Linked DNA regions of Homo sapiens: region 1 is linked to region 2. The links come from fine-mapping of genetic effects on gene expression. A gene starts in region 2. The other region holds a variant in brackets. All regions are shown on one strand. Distances are from middle to middle. Region 1 overlaps PCMTD1-DT (PCMTD1 divergent transcript). Region 2 holds the start of PCMTD1-DT (PCMTD1 divergent transcript).

Evidence for each region.
Region 1: its variant is fine-mapped to the expression of PCMTD1-DT in whole blood (INTERVAL, PIP above 0.99).

Annotation. Positions count from the first base shown.
Region 1 is chr8:51,925,087-51,933,555 of GRCh38, reverse strand. All of the region lies in intron 2 of PCMTD1-DT (PCMTD1 divergent transcript), which reads right to left. Among named protein-coding and RNA genes, the nearest start is that of PCMTD1-DT, 30 kb to the right of the region's middle. RefSeq lists a silencer at 275-404 and an enhancer at 7,327-8,469. The variant G/A (reference allele first, on the strand shown) is at 3,712.
Region 2 is chr8:51,895,645-51,904,113 of GRCh38, reverse strand. PCMTD1-DT (PCMTD1 divergent transcript) reads right to left here and starts at 4,799. Exons shown (of 4, transcript NR_189279.1): 1 at 4,268-4,799. PCMTD1 (protein-L-isoaspartate (D-aspartate) O-methyltransferase domain containing 1) reads left to right here and starts at 5,078. Exons shown (of 6, transcript NM_052937.4): 1 at 5,078-5,184. RefSeq lists enhancers at 3,962-4,021, 4,322-4,381, 4,552-4,841 and a silencer at 4,882-5,571.

The DNA of each region.
Region 1 (8,469 bases), 29 kb before region 2:
AAGTTATATTGGCTAAAGGAGAAAAAAATTACAGAATTAACTGAGGTCTACTACAATTTAGTCATCCCTTCAGCCAGGCTCTAGACAAACCACTGGGGTTAACAGAATGCATAGTCAAGTTAGGGTAGCCCCTACCCATAGCTCTCCAGGGAACTCCAAATCTGTGATCCTGTGGTGCAAGACATCCTAGGCTCACCTGCCCTGAGTGGACCTCATCTCACATCCTCATGCTTCCCCAACCCACTGGTTCTGTGCCCTTCCTCAAACATACTAAGCACACTTCCTCCCCACCCCCAGGACTATTGCACTGCTGTTTCTGTGGCTAAAAGATTTACCCTCAGATAGTCTCACATCATCCAGGTCTCTGCTCAACTACCAGCTCTTCACTCAGACCTCCTGGCAACAGTCCTGTCCTTATCTGGAGACTTCTCATTCTAACACAGGTCATCTCTTGGCCTGCTTCATTTATCTCAATACTACTCACCTTTACTGGATAATCATCAATCTACTTGTTCACAGGTGTATTGTTTGTCCCCTCACTAGAATATAAACTCCATGAGGGCAGGGACTTTGTTTTGTTGATGCTGTGTTTCCATGAATTTATCACAGTGCCTGGAACATAGAGGATAACTGATATTCGTTTGGGGGGAATGAATAAATGAATGAAGATATAATTTCTGTGGGGAGACAGACATGCCATAAATTATTGCATGGAAGCACAGAGTTCAAGTCTTTCTAGGGAGGAGGTAAGAGGAAAGGCTTCTCAGACAAGTGACGTTTGTGAGGGATCTTGAAGATAAAGAGATTGGTGCTAGGCAGAAAAGGAGGAAAAGGCACCCCATTGCAGGAGGAAACCCCAAGTGCACAAAGACATGAAGTTAAAACACTGTTAGGGTCAAAGAAAGGTAGGAGGTTTGGTGAGCATGGGAACATAAAGTGAGGCTGCACTGTAAATGCTTCCTACGCTATGTGTCAGCAAGTGGAGAAACTATGACTGTCACAACGTCAGGCACCATATCCCTCATAGGAAGTCAGGGTCTTGGCATACTCAAGCTGGTTTATTTGAGGAGTATTAACAAGTTATCTGCAAAGGTGGGTCTGAGTTTAAAGATACCAAGAAGGAATAATGTCACCCCCTAGAGAGCCTTTGCCAGCCCTAGGCCTGAAGGAGCAAAGGAAGGAAGATCAGAACCCAGAGAGGACAACTAGAAGAAACACAGAGCACCCTCAGGACCTGGTGCAGAGCAGGCGCCAGGGGAGGTCCCTGCCACAACTTGCCTTCCCCCAGGCCCGTGCCATCTCTTGCTGCCTCCCATTGGTTGAACCAACCTGGAGGCCTAAGATAAGAGGTTTTTGCTGATGCAGTTCCCACCCTTCCTGGACCACAGAGCAGGACAGCAAGAAAATTCTGAGGGACAACAAGAAAATACCCAGCACTGGAGAATTCTCTTTAGTGGGAAGAATGCTTTAGCACCTTGAGATAGATGGTGAGACCCAAAAGTCATGTCCAGGCAGCTGAAAGCATTGCTAAAAGCCTCACATGCAACAGTGAGAGAAGCTTTGTTTTGCCCCAAAGAAGGAGATGAGGGAAGAATGTGGAGAGAGAAGAGAAAAGGGAGGGAGAGAACCACTGTGTCTAGCCTGTACACAGTGTAGCTCCTCCTCAAGAAAGAACCACAGGTGTTCAGTGACTCTGTATACCCCAAAGTAGACACATTGTGTGACCATATCACTGATTTATTTTCTTCTGGAAACTGATCAAGAAACTAGGTTTCCTTGGAACTAGGTTTCCTTGGAACTAGGTTTCCAAGGAATCAAAACAACTTGGTGGTACCCAAGGACAGCCTTTGCACAGAAGTGTGAAGGCAGAACAGGCCCTGAAATCCCTATAACTCTTTCAGGGCTATTGGTCTTCCACAGACTGTAAAGTTGCCAGGGTTTGCTCAGTTTTACATAGATCTTACAGTTCCAAACTATTATGGGTTATTTTTTGTTTATTTATTTATTTATTTTTTGAGACGGAGTTTCACCCTCGTTGCTCAGGCTGGAGTGCAACGGCGTAATCTTGGCTCACTATAACCTCCACCTCCCAGGTTCAAGCAATTCTCCTGCCTCAGCCTCCTCAGTAGCTGGGATTACAGGCATCCGTCACCACACCCAGCTAATTTTTTGTATTTTTAGTAGAGATGGGGTTTCACCATGTTGGCCAGGCTGGTCTCAAACTCCTGACCTCAGGTGATCCACCCACCTTGGCCTCCCAAAGTGCTGGGATTACAGGCGTGAGCCACCATGCCCGGCCGGGTTACTATTATTAAGAAGTTTGGGATTTTTTCTCCAAGTAATAGTCAAGATATAAAGGCCTTAACGTAGAGGGTGGTCACGGTGGTCATGCGAAAGTTGGGCTGGAGTTGGGAGAGACTGAGAACGGAGTGGTCACTTAAGAGGCTAAGGAAATAGCTCAGGCCAAAAAGACAATGCCCTCACCTATGATGAGGCCAGGGAGTTTACTCTTGAATCTTCTTGATGCACTGTTCCAAACTTAAGTCATAAATATCATCCTTAATAAAATCACTCAGAGCCTGTATGATTTCACTTAGCCTTAGTCCTGATGCTGTTTCATTTAACACCTGCCATTTGTTCAATTGCCGCTAATCACTTCCTGTGTGCATTTTCTGAGTTTCTTTCTCTCTATCTGTTTGTTTGTTTGTTTTAAATAGGGTAACAACTTCGCTTTTCTCTCCCTTGCAGTGTGACACTGTAGCTCCTCTACTCCTCACCTTCTGTTGGTTTTGTAAATTAATCATTTTAACCAGGGAATGCTGGTTTCACCTTCCAAGATATAAATCCTTCAAGGTTCTGTTATGTCATATTGGAAGACAGAAGACATTTTTTTTTTAACTAAATGGCATTCTTTTTCTTTAAGAGATAGTGAAGAAAACAAACACTGATTTTTCAGTGGTACGCTCCTTTTTATTTTCAACTAAGACTAGCAGGGTGCTGGGCCATAACATAGTAAACTTGAGCATTTTGAAAAGATCAGAGCTTTTGTAATACCAAAAACATAACCAAAATTCACTGTAGATAACCCCCACTGTCCCACATGCTTATCTAAAAAGGCGTGACTTAAAAGGAATGTCAAGATTTAAAATGCCATTGTCTTTGGTGTAGACAACTTCCTAGAATTCAACAGTTCTATTTCCTGTAATTTTCATCTTGGGGAAAACCATTAATTCTACGAGATGTGATATTTATTTATGGCTCTGTTTTTTAAAAATTGTCGGACATGAGCCATTTTCCAATACTTACATAAGGACAAAGTTACAAATTAAGCCTTGGGTAATATTCACCTGCAAATATTCTCATGTTTATCAACTCAAAAAAAAAAAAAACCCCACACACTTTCATGTACTAAATACATGCTATGGCTAAAAGAATACGTATTTTAATAGCAGGATCCATCTTGAATTTTTCCTTATTTTTGATAAACCTAGTTAAACCATTGTTGGACTTTCTTCCATGGTGTATTGCAGGCACACTAAACAAAATCCCAGGGTACAAAATTACACTCATTGCTTAGATGCTGGGCTCACACCTAGACAAATGGTATGTTTTTAAAAATACATGCACCAGAGTTGCTTGAATCTCTCAATTGCTTTTCAGCAGTTTATAAAACAGTAAAAGAATTAAAGACTCTAATGTGGTTTAATGTCA[G/A]GGATTAAATTAGAAATGCTAAATAAAGAAACCTGCTCTTATTCAAAGAACATGCATTTGCATGTAAGATTCCAGCATAACTGTTACTAAGTCTTTTATTTCCATCTCATCTAAAATGACAAAGAATGGAAAAGCTCAGGCAATTTGTCCAATTAAATTATAATATGGGAGAGACATGGTGGCTCATGCCTGTAATTCCATTTTGGGAGGCCAAGGTGGGATGATAGCTTGAGGTCAAGAGTTCGAGACCAGCCTAGGCAACATAGTGAGACCCATCTCTACTAAAAAAAATTTAAAAATTACCCAAGTGTAGTGGCACATGCCTGTAGTCCCAGCTATGCAAGAGGCTTAGGCAAGAGGATTACCTGAACCCGGGAGGTTGAGACTGTAGTAAGCTATGATCATGCCACTATACTCCAGCCTGGGAGACAAAGTCAGACTCTGTCACTAATAAATAAATAAATTAAATAAATAAATACATAAAATTACAATATATATTCAAAAGTTATAAGTTTGATTGAAATTTAATAAGGGTGACTTGTGTTTCTCAAAGTGCAATCCTCAGACTGATGAACAGGAGTGGGACATGACTTCTCCTTCATACATTTTTTATTTTTTTCTTCTCTTCACAAAACCCACACCACTACTTCATGGATGGTATACCCATTAACCCTGAGGCTTCTGTCACACAAAGCAAATAGCCATTCTTCTGTGCTCTCATAATGTTCAACCATTCCTTTTACTTAGAGAATTCCAGAAACTGACCTTAGGAGAGCTAAACATCAAACAAGGTTGCGAGTGTCCTTCCTTGGGAAGAAAAACTGAAAAATTGATTACTGCTTCGCTGCCCCCACCAGACCACCAGGTGGTTCATTACTCAAGAGAACCATCACAACCAGACATGCTGACCTGCATCCCCTACCCTTCACATGCTTTGCCCAGCCCAGCCTGCATACACTAGTCTTGAAATCAATTCCCATGTTTTGTCTAATTAAAAAAAAAAAAAATCCCTAATGGCGTTTCTTTGGGAGCTAGCCAGAGGATCTTTCTCACCGTTGCTGTCTCCCTTGCACTTGAGCATAAGCCCCATAATAAAAGTCTTATCTGGAAAATCTGCTTGGCCATGAGTTAATTTCCATTATATGGGTAGCCAAAGAGCCTGTGGTCTGTAACAAAGCTACCTCTATCAGAATTATCTGAGATGTGTATCAAAAATACCATTTCCTACATGTAGCAAGAAAGCCTTGGCCACTCTTGGATCCCACAGTTTGCGCTCTTGGCTCACTGCCATGTGGCCATGCTTCCTTCACCTCTGCAAAGCCGGCTTTGATAAACTGTCATAAGGAATATCTGGCACTGCTACTCCAGGCTCCAGATAAATGCCAACATGGGAACAGAACAAAAGCATAAGGTGATGATATGGTTTGGATTTGTGTCCACACCCAAATCTCATATTGAATTGTAATCCCCAATATTGGGGGAGGGATCTGGTTGGAGATGAATGGATCATGGGGTCAATTTACCCCCCTGCTGTTCTGGTGATAGTGAGTGAGTTCTCACTAGCTCTGGTTGTTTAAAAGTATGTAGGGCTTCCCCCTTTGCTCTCTCTCTCTCTCTCCTGCTGGCCATGTGAAGATGTCTTTGCTTCCCCTTCACTTTCTGCCATGATTGTAAGCTTCTTGAAGCATCCCCAGCCATGCTTCCTGTACAGCCTATGGAACTGTGAGCCAATTAACCCTCTTTTCTTTATAAATTATCCAGTCTCAGGTAGTTCTTTATAGCGGTGTGAGAATGGACTAATACAGATGTTCTTTTTGTTTTTACACCTTGTTCTAGCACTTCTGTATGCTTAAGATTTTGTTATATTTTTGTCACAAAGTGAAGTTCCCCCCTTAGTACCCCTAAATAAGAAAGGTAGAGTTGCAATTTAATGCTACTAACAGCTATAAAAGAAAGCAGCAGTTTCCCTTGGCCAGGGCAAAGCAGCCACTACAAAACTTGACCATGGTTTCACTTCACAAACTGATAAATGGCACTCCTTATGTGCCAGGCAGTGACCTGAGTGCTTTACAATCAACGTTGACTTATGGAATCTTCTAGATGAGCCTGTGAGGTAGGTACTATTGTTAGCCTCATGATAAATAAGGAAAGAACATTTTTGTAGTCACTTCTCTGTGAGGTTTGAGGCTCAAGTTCTTGGAACTTTGAAACATCAGCCAACAACAAAACACTACCAACAAAAAGTTTGCTCCAGTAGAAGATGTGAAGCAACTGATGCATAAAATATCTTGTTATTTTTAAATGTTACTCTGGGTGAAAAATAAAAAGACTATTAAAAAACTCTTCTGTCAGTGGTCCCTTGGAGCTCTGAAGTAAATTTAAAACATAATGATTGGAAAGGAGCCTCCTTTCACACTTGGAAAAGAAGTCCCCAAAACTCTGGGTGCTGTCTGAGACCTTGCAACTTCAAATTGCTGGGGGTGGAGCCCAGGACACTAGGGTGGAGGCTGTCACTCCCCACACTACTGGGACTTAGAGACTCAGAGCCAGCTCTTGGTCCTCTCTGCAAAGAATACGTAGGAAGTAGTTTAATTTTCAGTAAAAGAAGAAATGTTTTTCAACGTGGTCACCTGCAGAAACTACAGTCCACCTTTATAGTGGTAAAATATAATTACGGTCTTGAGAATTTCCCTAAAAGATTCTGCATGGGTTGAAATTTGGGCTTCAAATCAGCAAAGGGAGGATGGGACACAGCTTCTGTGAAAGTTCCTCTAAGGAGGATGCAGCTTCAAGTGAGTAACCTGTGATACCTTTTCATTCTGGATGGATAGAAGAGCTTATCTGAAAATAAAACCTAAATTTGTGTGGGAGTTTTTTTTAACTCCTTGCAATACCCGGATGGATGGATGGATGGATGGATGCATGGATGGATTGAGACAGTGTCTCCTTCTGTTGCCCAGGCTGGAGTACAGTGGCACAGTCAAGGCTCACTGTAACCTTGACCTCGCAGGCTATGGGGATTTATTGCGAAGCAAGAAGTAAGTAATCAAGAAAGGGGAGTAGGGAGTGCAACTGTACTCGAGAGAGAGTAGCACCCAATGGGGTTTGAGGCTTCTACTTCTTTAACCAAGGAATATTCACACCGATTCCTGGAAAAAGGTGAAGATTCCTTGGAACTGCGGTACCACCTATTTTTACCCCAAATATAGATGTTCCCAAAACTGTCATGGCACTGGTGGGTAATGGATTTAATGTTTTACTGAGCATATAATGAGGTCCTAGGTAAAACCTAGGTCAAATCCAGCACCATGTTGGGTCCAGTTGGTCTCAGTAAGCTTGGTCCACTCCCTGGTTTTCAGGTTTTCTCATCCCCTAGCTCATGCAGCCATTTCAACAGTTTTCTTTGGCTAGCCATGTGAAACTGCTGCCTAGAATTTTCTCCTGTGACCACCCTGTATTATTTCTGTCTCAACCTGAGGAGCTCTTCTGGTAGTCTTCATGTGGCTAAAGCTTAAGTTACAACTAGCTGGGTGTGATGGCTCATGCCTATAATCCCAGCACTTTGGGAGCCTGAGGCAGAAGGATCACTTGAGCCCAGAAGTTTGAGACCAGCCTGGGCAACATGGTGAGACACTGTCTCTATAAACACACACAAAAAAATTATTTTAAAAAAAGAATGAACTGTTAATGCACAGAATAAATCATGGGCTTTGGAATGAGAATTGGGATTAAATCCAAAATTAGGTGACCTTGAGCAACACCTGTAAGTTTCTATTCTGTTTCCCCAACTATAAATGGAAATACGATTATTCATTCTTTCATTCTGTAGGGACTAATGAAAACTTTCCTTTCAACCTCTGAAGGTTCACTGAAAATAAACTGACAAAGGCAGATTGATAGGAGAAATGGCATACCCATTGATTAGTGTGCAGGGAGCAGGAGAAATCACAGAGTGATTGCTGCATCACGCATAAAGTATACAGATGGTTATATACCTTTCTTCTTAGGGGAAAGGACGATGGAAAAGTGTAGATTATTTTAGGGAGTAGTAAATTAGTTTTAGGGGAATTCGATGGGCTTGAAAAACACTCAGTAACCTGGGACAAACTTTGTTTGGGCCCACAGGGCAGACAATGGTTTCTTGCTTCCTGTGATATGAGTTTGAAATAGGCCCAACTGTCTCATAGAAATGATATATATGGGTTTTTGAATAACACAGAAATGGACCCTCCATCTTAATATTTAAAACTTATATTTGTCTTAACTGTGTTCCTTCTTCAGGAAACTGACCCTCAGGCAAGGGACTAAAACTCGTCAGATCACCGCATCCAGACAATGAGATGCCAGACCTCGTATCCATCATAATTGCTTCCTTACTCCTCCCTAATTTCTGTTTTCCCTGCCTTCCCCTCTATATAAATGATAGATGCAGGAGGCAGATAAGGGAGGCTACCTGGAGAATCTCCAATCCATCCCACAAGTGTTCATATCAGATGCTTTTGTGCAGAGGGGGAACATGCCCAGGGCCTTGTCTGGACATGCCCACAATGGACTGGGGGCCTGCCTGCACACTGGGAGTATGGGGTGGAGCCACCAGGGATCAGCACCTTATGCAGTAGGGAGGAGCCTGGACTCCTCAGCTTGTATGTGTGGTGCCCTGATATTCAATCTGTGAGGTGGGAGCCTGCTGTCAGGACCCCCTTTTTATTCACTGAGAGCTTTCTTTTAATAAATTCTGCTCTCCTCACCTTTCAATGT
Region 2 (8,469 bases):
CGAGGTTAGCTTTTGTTTTAGGATTTTTCATTTCAAAGTCTCTGTTCTGCCCTAATAATGAATTTGTTGTCACAGCTCCTATTTTTACTATTATTTTTAGCAAACTATTCTATTTAGTGGAATTAAAAAAAAAAAGATCAGTTGGTTCTAGTCAACTCTTCATAATTGCTCTGTTCATCAACCTAGAGCCAAGAAGAATCCATACATATGAATTATCATTTCAGTGCCTGGACTTACTACTGTGGTTCAGTATCTGACCAAGAAAGACAGGTTTACTGACCAAAGCCTTTTTCATCTTCATTTCAGAATTCAAATGTCATACTTAAAAACACACATACATACATATAATGTGCACACACACACACACATAAACACAGTAACTTCATTTACACTATGAATCACTAAAGCAGACTCTGAAATGGTTTCACCTAACTACAGTAATAGTTATATACAGCATAATTTTTAGTTCTAATACAAGGTACTTGCGTCAGCTACATTTACATAAAAGTGAACACTTAAGTTTTGGCTCCTTGCTGGCTGTTGCATCCAATCTAATGACCACCAAAATCTGGCTGCAGTCTATCTTTCTAGGCTTAGCTCCCATTATCCTTTTTGCATTCTATGTTCTAGCTAAATCAGATTAATCTCTGCTCTTTGAAAACAAATGATCTATGTAAGCGTTATTCTTTTATATTCCATGTTCCTAAAATAGCTATTCTCTTTATCTCCATAATTCAAAAATTCTATTCAAATTTCAAAGCTTGATTCAAATTTGACTTCTGCCATGGAACACTACTATGGAGCAAGAGTATTTTATTTGTACCCTTACTATTATGTCAAGGGTCACTTTCCTCCTTCTATTATTTGAATGTAAGTTTATTAAGACAGAAGCTATATCATATATTATTGCAATATCCTCAGCATCTATCATAGTGTCAGAAAATGTTTATTGAACTTTAATAGATTCTTTAAAAAATATTAAATTTTACATATACATTAAAAAGATGTTTATCCACAGTTTTGATGCACTTAAGTTTACAAGCAGAAGTTTTCCTTTTTCTCCACTCCATGATTCTGTTTTTTAAGAAGCAGAATTTTTAATAAAGGAAAGATATTTATATAGATTAAGCACCATATAAGAGTAATTTTAACTTGTGAGTTAAAGTCACTTTTTGTTTACTGTAGACAATAAATTATAAATGCTTATTTTTCTAAAAGAAATTCATTTTTTGATAACTTATATTTCCTTTTATTGGAAGATTATCCTAGCATTAAAATCTATGTAATTGAGGGATTATATGTGCAATTTAAAATAAAATTATGCTTTCCCAAAGTCATTTAATCCTATTAATTGTCAAGTGAATATTTCAGAAATTACTGACCTTTTTAATACTGAAAATGAAATCTGCCTGTGCAGACTACATCCAATTAGAAACTAACTCCTGGGCTCAAGTAATCCTCCCATCTCAGCTTCTGGAATAGCTGGGACTACAGGCATGCATCACCACACTCAGGTAATTTTTAAATTTTTTGCAGAGATGAGGTCTCACTATGTTGCTCAGGCTGATCTTGAAATCTTGCAACTTCTGAGCTCAAATGATTCTCCCACCTCTGCTTCCTATAGGGCTGGGACTATAGTCGTGAGCCACTGTGCCTGGCCAATGACAATTCTCTTTAAGAGAGAAAATACTTCTGTTTTTGCTTTTTTTTTTTTTGCAGGGGGAGGGGGATGGTGAGGTAGGGGAGGTGATGAATTTAACTGTACTGAAAATGGTACAAGGAAATCAAACTGCAGAAAAAAACAGTTCCACATTTAGTTACATTTTAGTTTTGGGTTTTCCCCAGACATTGCAGGCCAAATTAGAGTTAAGATGAGGAAATCCTTTCAGTCCTCACAGACCAGACTTGGCTTTATAAAACATAATCAAGTCCCACTATACAACCTAGGTGTTAGGAAGCAACTAGAGTTTTCAAGGTAGATCTGGGCAACACGCAGACACCTCCATTTCTGAGGCTGAAGGAAACATGCACCAGTGCTAACTGCCACGCATATGAAAAATGTGAACTCCTAGCACGGTGACAGTAGCTGTATGCTGAATACCATTTAATTTAATAAGCATTTGTTTGTTGAATACCTTATGCATTCAAATAACAGAGCACTTCTGATACAACAATGCTTCAGCCTACACAGTATTCTGAAAGGAGTCCCAAATAGCTCAATTTTACTTTGGGTATTTTCTGCTTAATAATAAAAGTGAAGCAACCTCGTATGAAGAATTAAGTTATTACAGTAAGTGTTATTGCTGTTGCCAGGACCAAACTTACTGTAACAATGTATCAAGAACTCTAGGAATAAACTGTGTGTGGGTTATCTAAATTTATCAAAGTCTAAATAAATCTCTAAATGATTCTAGATGATAATTTAAAATTTAAATTACTCATTCAACAAATGCAGAGTATCAGTGTTGTAGCAGCCACTGTATCAGGCCCTGCAGAGAAATAGTGAGCATACTGGGTATGTGCCCAACTTTCATGATTACAAATTAGTAGGAAGTCACACACAAGAAGTGAATTATAGCCAGACGTGGTGGCTCATGCCTGTAATCCCAACACTTTGGGAGGCCGAGGCGGGTGGATCACTTGAGATCGGAGTTTGAGGCCAGCCTAGCCAACAGGGGAAACCCCATCTCTACTAAAAATACAAAAATTAGCAGGGGGTGGTGGTGCGCTCCTGTGATCCTAGCTACTTGGGAGGCTGAGGCAGAACTGCTTGAAGCCGGGAGGTGGAGGTTGCAGTGAGCAGAGGTTGCCACTGCACTCCAGCCTGGGCAAAAGAGCAAAAGACTCTGTCGCCCCCACCCACAAATGAATTATATGTGTAAGGTATGGAGGCATAATCAGAAATTACGTGAAGGTAGAGATGGGGTGTGCCTACCACAGGAAAATTACAGGTGATAGAGTGCTTTACTTGCTGTTCAACTACTCACCCACAAGACTAGCATTTGGTGTTGTTTATTAAGAAGGTATTTACTAGCAGTCTTATTTAAAAAATGACCTGTGTTTAACTTTCCAGCCGCAGAAGAGAAAAAAGGTCTAGAACCCTGAAAAATTCCCATAGCAGAAGGAAGAAAGTAAAGGAAAATATGCTTTTAAAAAATGGAGAGAAAACAGGGGAAACGGCTGTAAGAGTTGTTTAATGATTTTAGCTATTTTCCTTAGATTACCATTTGTACTTTTTTTGTTTGTTTATGGTAAGATAGTTTTCATGTGCCAAAATTTCTGCTTGGACTAACAGAAAATTCATCCTGTAAGATTGTTATATGATCCCACAACGGTTAGGAGTGCCCTGGGTCCAGGCAGAAATCCAAAGATGGAGCTAATAATGTGACCCGCAGCTCTACTCCAGAATGCAGATGAATAGAGATTTTGAACAGTTCGGAGCTCAATGTCCACTGAATATGCACTCATACTTTAAACCTAAATAAAGTGAAGCCTTTGAGTTAAATGGCAGAGCGCCTCAGCAGCAATTTTGCTCGTTTTCAAGTTCTTATTTCGTGATTTGAAGCTTTTGACCTTGCTAGCATGTTCTTTCTGAACGCTTTTGCAGATGGTTGGTTATGGTGGGGAGTAGTAACCCTAGCATAAAGACGTTCTAATTCTAACTTACCTTAGGTAACCTATAAGGGTAGCTTACGCTCACTCTCATACTTGAAAATCAAAACCGAACAGAATTCACACGATGGAAGCAAATCATGCTACAACCTACTATTAGAGACTGAAGGGAAACGCACAAAGATTAATGAACAACAAAGAACACTTCAAAAAGTACAGTATTTGGAAAAGACATGCCTTTATGTACACTAAAACTAATTTAAAAAATTAAATGCAGTTTGCTAGGAGTCTTACAAGTATTAACAGCATGTTCACTGCTTAGGATCCTTAGTAGCAATATTTTCCCGGCTCGCCTGCCCCTATGCCTCATTTCCTCTTCTTTTTTTTTTTGAGATGGAGTTTCGCTCTTGCCGCCCAGGCCAGGTGCCATCTCAGCACTGCAACCTCCGACTCCCGGGTTCAAGCGATTCTCCTACCTCAGCCTCCCGAGTTGCTGGGACTACAGGCGCACGGCACCACACCCGGCTAATTTTTGTATTTTTAGTAGAGACGGGGTTTCACCATGTAGGCCAGGCTGGTCTCTAAGTCCTGACCTCAGGTGATCCGCCTGTCTCGGCCTCCCAAAGTGCTGGGATGACAGGCGTGAGCCACTCACCCGGCCCTCTTCTCGACTTTCTATCCCTCCTCCTCAACACCCTTTCCTTCTGGAAATGGGCTTTGGGGTGGTTAACCAAGCCCAGGGAAACTTGCGTGGCCCAGCATCTTCCGTCCGCTGCAGGAGGAGCACACGCCCCCGGCCCGGGTCAGCAAGACGCGAGAAAGCGGCCACGCCGGGCGTCCGGGAGCTGAGGCTGGAGGGCGCCTGGCAGGCAGGGCGGGGCCCAGGCGGCGGGAGTGCTTATGACCGGCGCTGGGGGGAACTTCTGGACGTCAAGGGGCCACTATAAAGCGGCACAGTCTTGAGCCTTCGCTCTTCACCTAAGTCAGTGAGCGCCCTTCGCAAAGCCTCTGTGGAGGTAACCATTGGGGGTTCGCCTCCAAATCCAGGAATGCACCTCAAAAATGCTCCTACACCGTAAGACCGTGTCCTTCAATGCAAAGGGGACTGTGCGGCGAGGCACCGACAAGCCGTAGCCCTGAGACCACTGAAAGCCTGCACCCCAGCGCCGGTGCGAGAACGTGGAGATGGCGGTGGGGAGGAGAGGTGGAGGCCATGCTCTCGCGTGATCTCCCCTACCGCCATCGTCTTCTGGCCTGTCAAGGCCTCGCGTTGTTTGGGCTTGGGGGCGGAGCGAGCCCTGAGGGGGGCGGGGCCAGATGGGGGCGTCTCCCGGCCTTGTTGACTTTGGCGTCCGCGGGGAGCTGCCCCTGTGCCCGTGGTTCTCTGCGCATGCCCGGACCCCGGCGGCTCCGGAGTCCGGGAGGCTCTGGCTGCTCCAGTCGCGGGTCCGGGCCCCGCCTCTCCACTCGGCGGTGGCGTCCGTGTTGTTATTGTGGTGGTAGCGGCGTCTGGCTGCTGCGGACCCCGCCGAGTCCTAGCGCCTGGCCTGCGCGCCGCTGCCCGCGCCACAGGTAACGCCGCCGCCAGTGGGGGCTCGGGGTCGTGGGGTGTGCGAGTCCCGCGTGCTAGGGCCGGGCGGGCGACTGGGATGCGCTTGGAGGCCAGAGGGCCAGGGGGACGGCAGCCGAAGAGTCGGGGGCAGGGGGACTTAAGGGCGGGCAGGTCGGGGGCCAGGAAACTGAGGCGCTGCGGGGCAGGTTGGGGGAAGGACGGGCCGGGGGCGGAGGACTTGGGAGGTCGGGGAGTCGAAAGGGGCCCAGCGAAGCCTGGAGGTCGGGAGCCGGGGTCCCTGGGGCCGGGGAGGTCGGGGGCCCGAGGGAGGCCGGGGCGCCGCGTCCTCGGCCCGTCCTCGGCTCGTCCTCGGCTCTGACCTGGGCTTGGGGACCAGAGTCCCGAGGCTGGCGTCTTGAGATGCCCGCGGGCCCCTTAGGGCCGTTTTGGATCCGCCCAGTGACTTCTGTTTTGGTTTTGGAGGCAGAGAATCCAGTCTACGTAGACTCGGGGAAGTCTCGGGGGCTGGGAGGGGACTGAGAGGTTATAGCAGGCGCCAAGGCCTCTTTTTGTGTTTTTGAGCGTCTACTACCGTTCCGGGGAAGTGCAGTGCCCGCGTTTTGCTTGGGGAATTTCAGACACCGGCATGGGGAGGACCCACGGGCAGAACCCGAGGGAGTAATTTTGCAAATCCAAGATTTTTTGGAACTTCTATAATTTTGTTTTCGTGTGTCCTCTTTTTAGAATCGAGAAACCAGAGATATATTTTTAACATTACAAATCAGAAGAATTTGCTACGGAGGAAAAAAGTATGCTTTTAGCAGTGTTTTTCCCCTATTTATTTTTTTAATTACAAAAGTACTGCTTGCTCCTTGAGAAAAACATGAAGCAGCCAAACAATGAGGAAACCTGCCCTCTCTCGCGCCCTTCCCCCCATATTTCTCCTTCTTACTACCCAGGGTAGCCAGTCTCCAAGTGTGGTGGGTAGTTATTCAGGATTTTTTTTTTCTGTGCATTTAATGAGTGTGCTTTAGAAACAAGATTGGGATCATATATAGTACAGTATATCGTTTTATTAGCCAACAATGCATCATGGATATTCCTCCATTTTATTACACACCTCATTATTTTAAAAAACATTATTACTATGTATTAGAGAATCCAATCTACGTAGGCTTGGGGAAGCCTTTTCTTCATTGTTAAACATGGTCGCCAAGTTTTCAATAATCAGTAGCTTTGAAAAGGGCTACAAGCCAATATTTTGAAACAATGTGGCAAAACTTTCAGAATGTCTGCGGCCAGACGACATTACTTTCGTATTAAGCAGATTAATATGTTTACGTATTGCTTAATGGTAGTTTACATGAGGCTAGATGACTCCATAAAACATAAAGTTGCTGAATTAGTTTACTTTTTGGTTTTTTTTATTTCATTTTTTTCTAAGTAAATTTTAATTCCATATGGTCAGTTGAACACTTGTAATTTCTTTAACATGAAGTAGCTAATATGTGAAGGAAAGGTAAGGTAGGAAAGATAGAAAGCTAGTGGCCCTAGCCTGAGACAAGAAAAAAAAAGCAACAGGGATTAAATATTTTGGTAAGTAAGCTATAGGGAGTAAACTGGAAGTGGAGGGGTGATACTACACTGCCTACTATTAAGTAAGACAGAAAGCTAGGAAATTCCCATTGCATACTGTATTTCTGTGTGCAGAAGAGCTGGAGGCTTTGTTGATTTAATCACTAGCTTGTATTTATTAAAAATGTACTGTGTTCATCTTGGTGCTAGCTTCCAGGGAAAGAACAACTGAGGAAGATAATCACGAACAACGTCTGGTTCTAAACATGCATAGCCTGAAATTTTAAGCCAAATTGTGTAGTATTTTATGATTTGGAAACTGTGCTCGAAAGGAATAAAAAAATCCATGACATTTTAGTTATTTTTGGTAATAATATGCTCATATATTTCTCATAACAACATAAATGACATTCTTCTCATTCTATAGAGTAATAAATAGAGGCTTTGAGTAAAAGAACTGCTCAAGATCCCATTGCTTTTTTTTTTTTTTTGTAATAGTGCGTGTTTATATTCAGGAGTGCTTAATCCAAGAACCTGTGTTTTCTGCTCTTGTTTTACCTCCTATGAACGAAAAATTGTTGCCCTTACGGTTTTTTCTGCTTTCTTTGAAATGTTCCTTACAGAATAACTACATGAATGTAATCACATGCATTTAAAATAGTCTAGAGAATATAGTGTGAAACTATAATGGTATTTTTTTAGATGAGGTTTCTGGTGGCATATTACTAAAATTTTAAACTCCTTGATCTTATGCTGTTAACCAAGAAGATGGGGATTTGTGTTACTTTAGACACTGCTGGGTGCCATGGTAAATTGGGATGTTATTGTAAATTGTAGCTCTCACAGCTGCGTATTGCTTACAAACTCGGAAGGATAGTCTCATATCAGTAAACATTTTTATGAACGTAGTTGAACTTTTTTGTAAATTAGTGTGCTGGAAAGAATACCAAGAGGGCCCTAAAAAAGTCTAAAAGGATTAAAATTTACTTATGTAATTATTGGTATTTTAAAATATTTGGTAGTCACTTAAAATGCATAATGACAGACAATAGGGTGTCATAATATGGTTTATTAATCTTTTTTCATTTTCCACTAGATGTGGCAACTACATAGTTGGAAGAAATGTGGCGGCCGGGGGCAGTGGCTCACGCCTGTAATCCTAGCACTTTGGGAGGCTGAGGCAGGTGGATCGCCTGAGGTCAGGAGTTCGAGTCCAGCCTGGCCAACATGGCAAAACCCCGTCTCTACTAAAAATACAAAAATTAGCCGAGCTTGGTGGTGGGCATCTGTAATCCCAGCTACTCGGGAGGCTGAGGCAGGAGAGTCGCTTGAACCTGCGAGTCAGAGGTTGCAGTGAGCCAAGATCGCTCCACTTCACTCCAGCCTGGTCAAAAGAGTGAGACTCTGTCTCAAAAAAAAAAAAAAAAAAAAAAAAAGAAATGGGACAAATACTAACATTAATAAAGTATGGTCAGTTGTAATCTGTATTTGAGAAGAAACCAAAAATACAGGAAAAGCTTTGACATTTTACTGGCAATTGTTAAGGATGATAATTGGATTCATACCTAAATGGCGTATCTGCCATTGATTATCTCTCGGTCAACGTAACATTGGATGTTGGATGTGAGTGGGTTTTATAATTAGGTGACACAGAAATATTTCAGCCCCCTAAAGACGTTTTTAGAATATGGTAAGATTTTTTCAGCTGTTGAAGTGGGGAAGGATTGTGA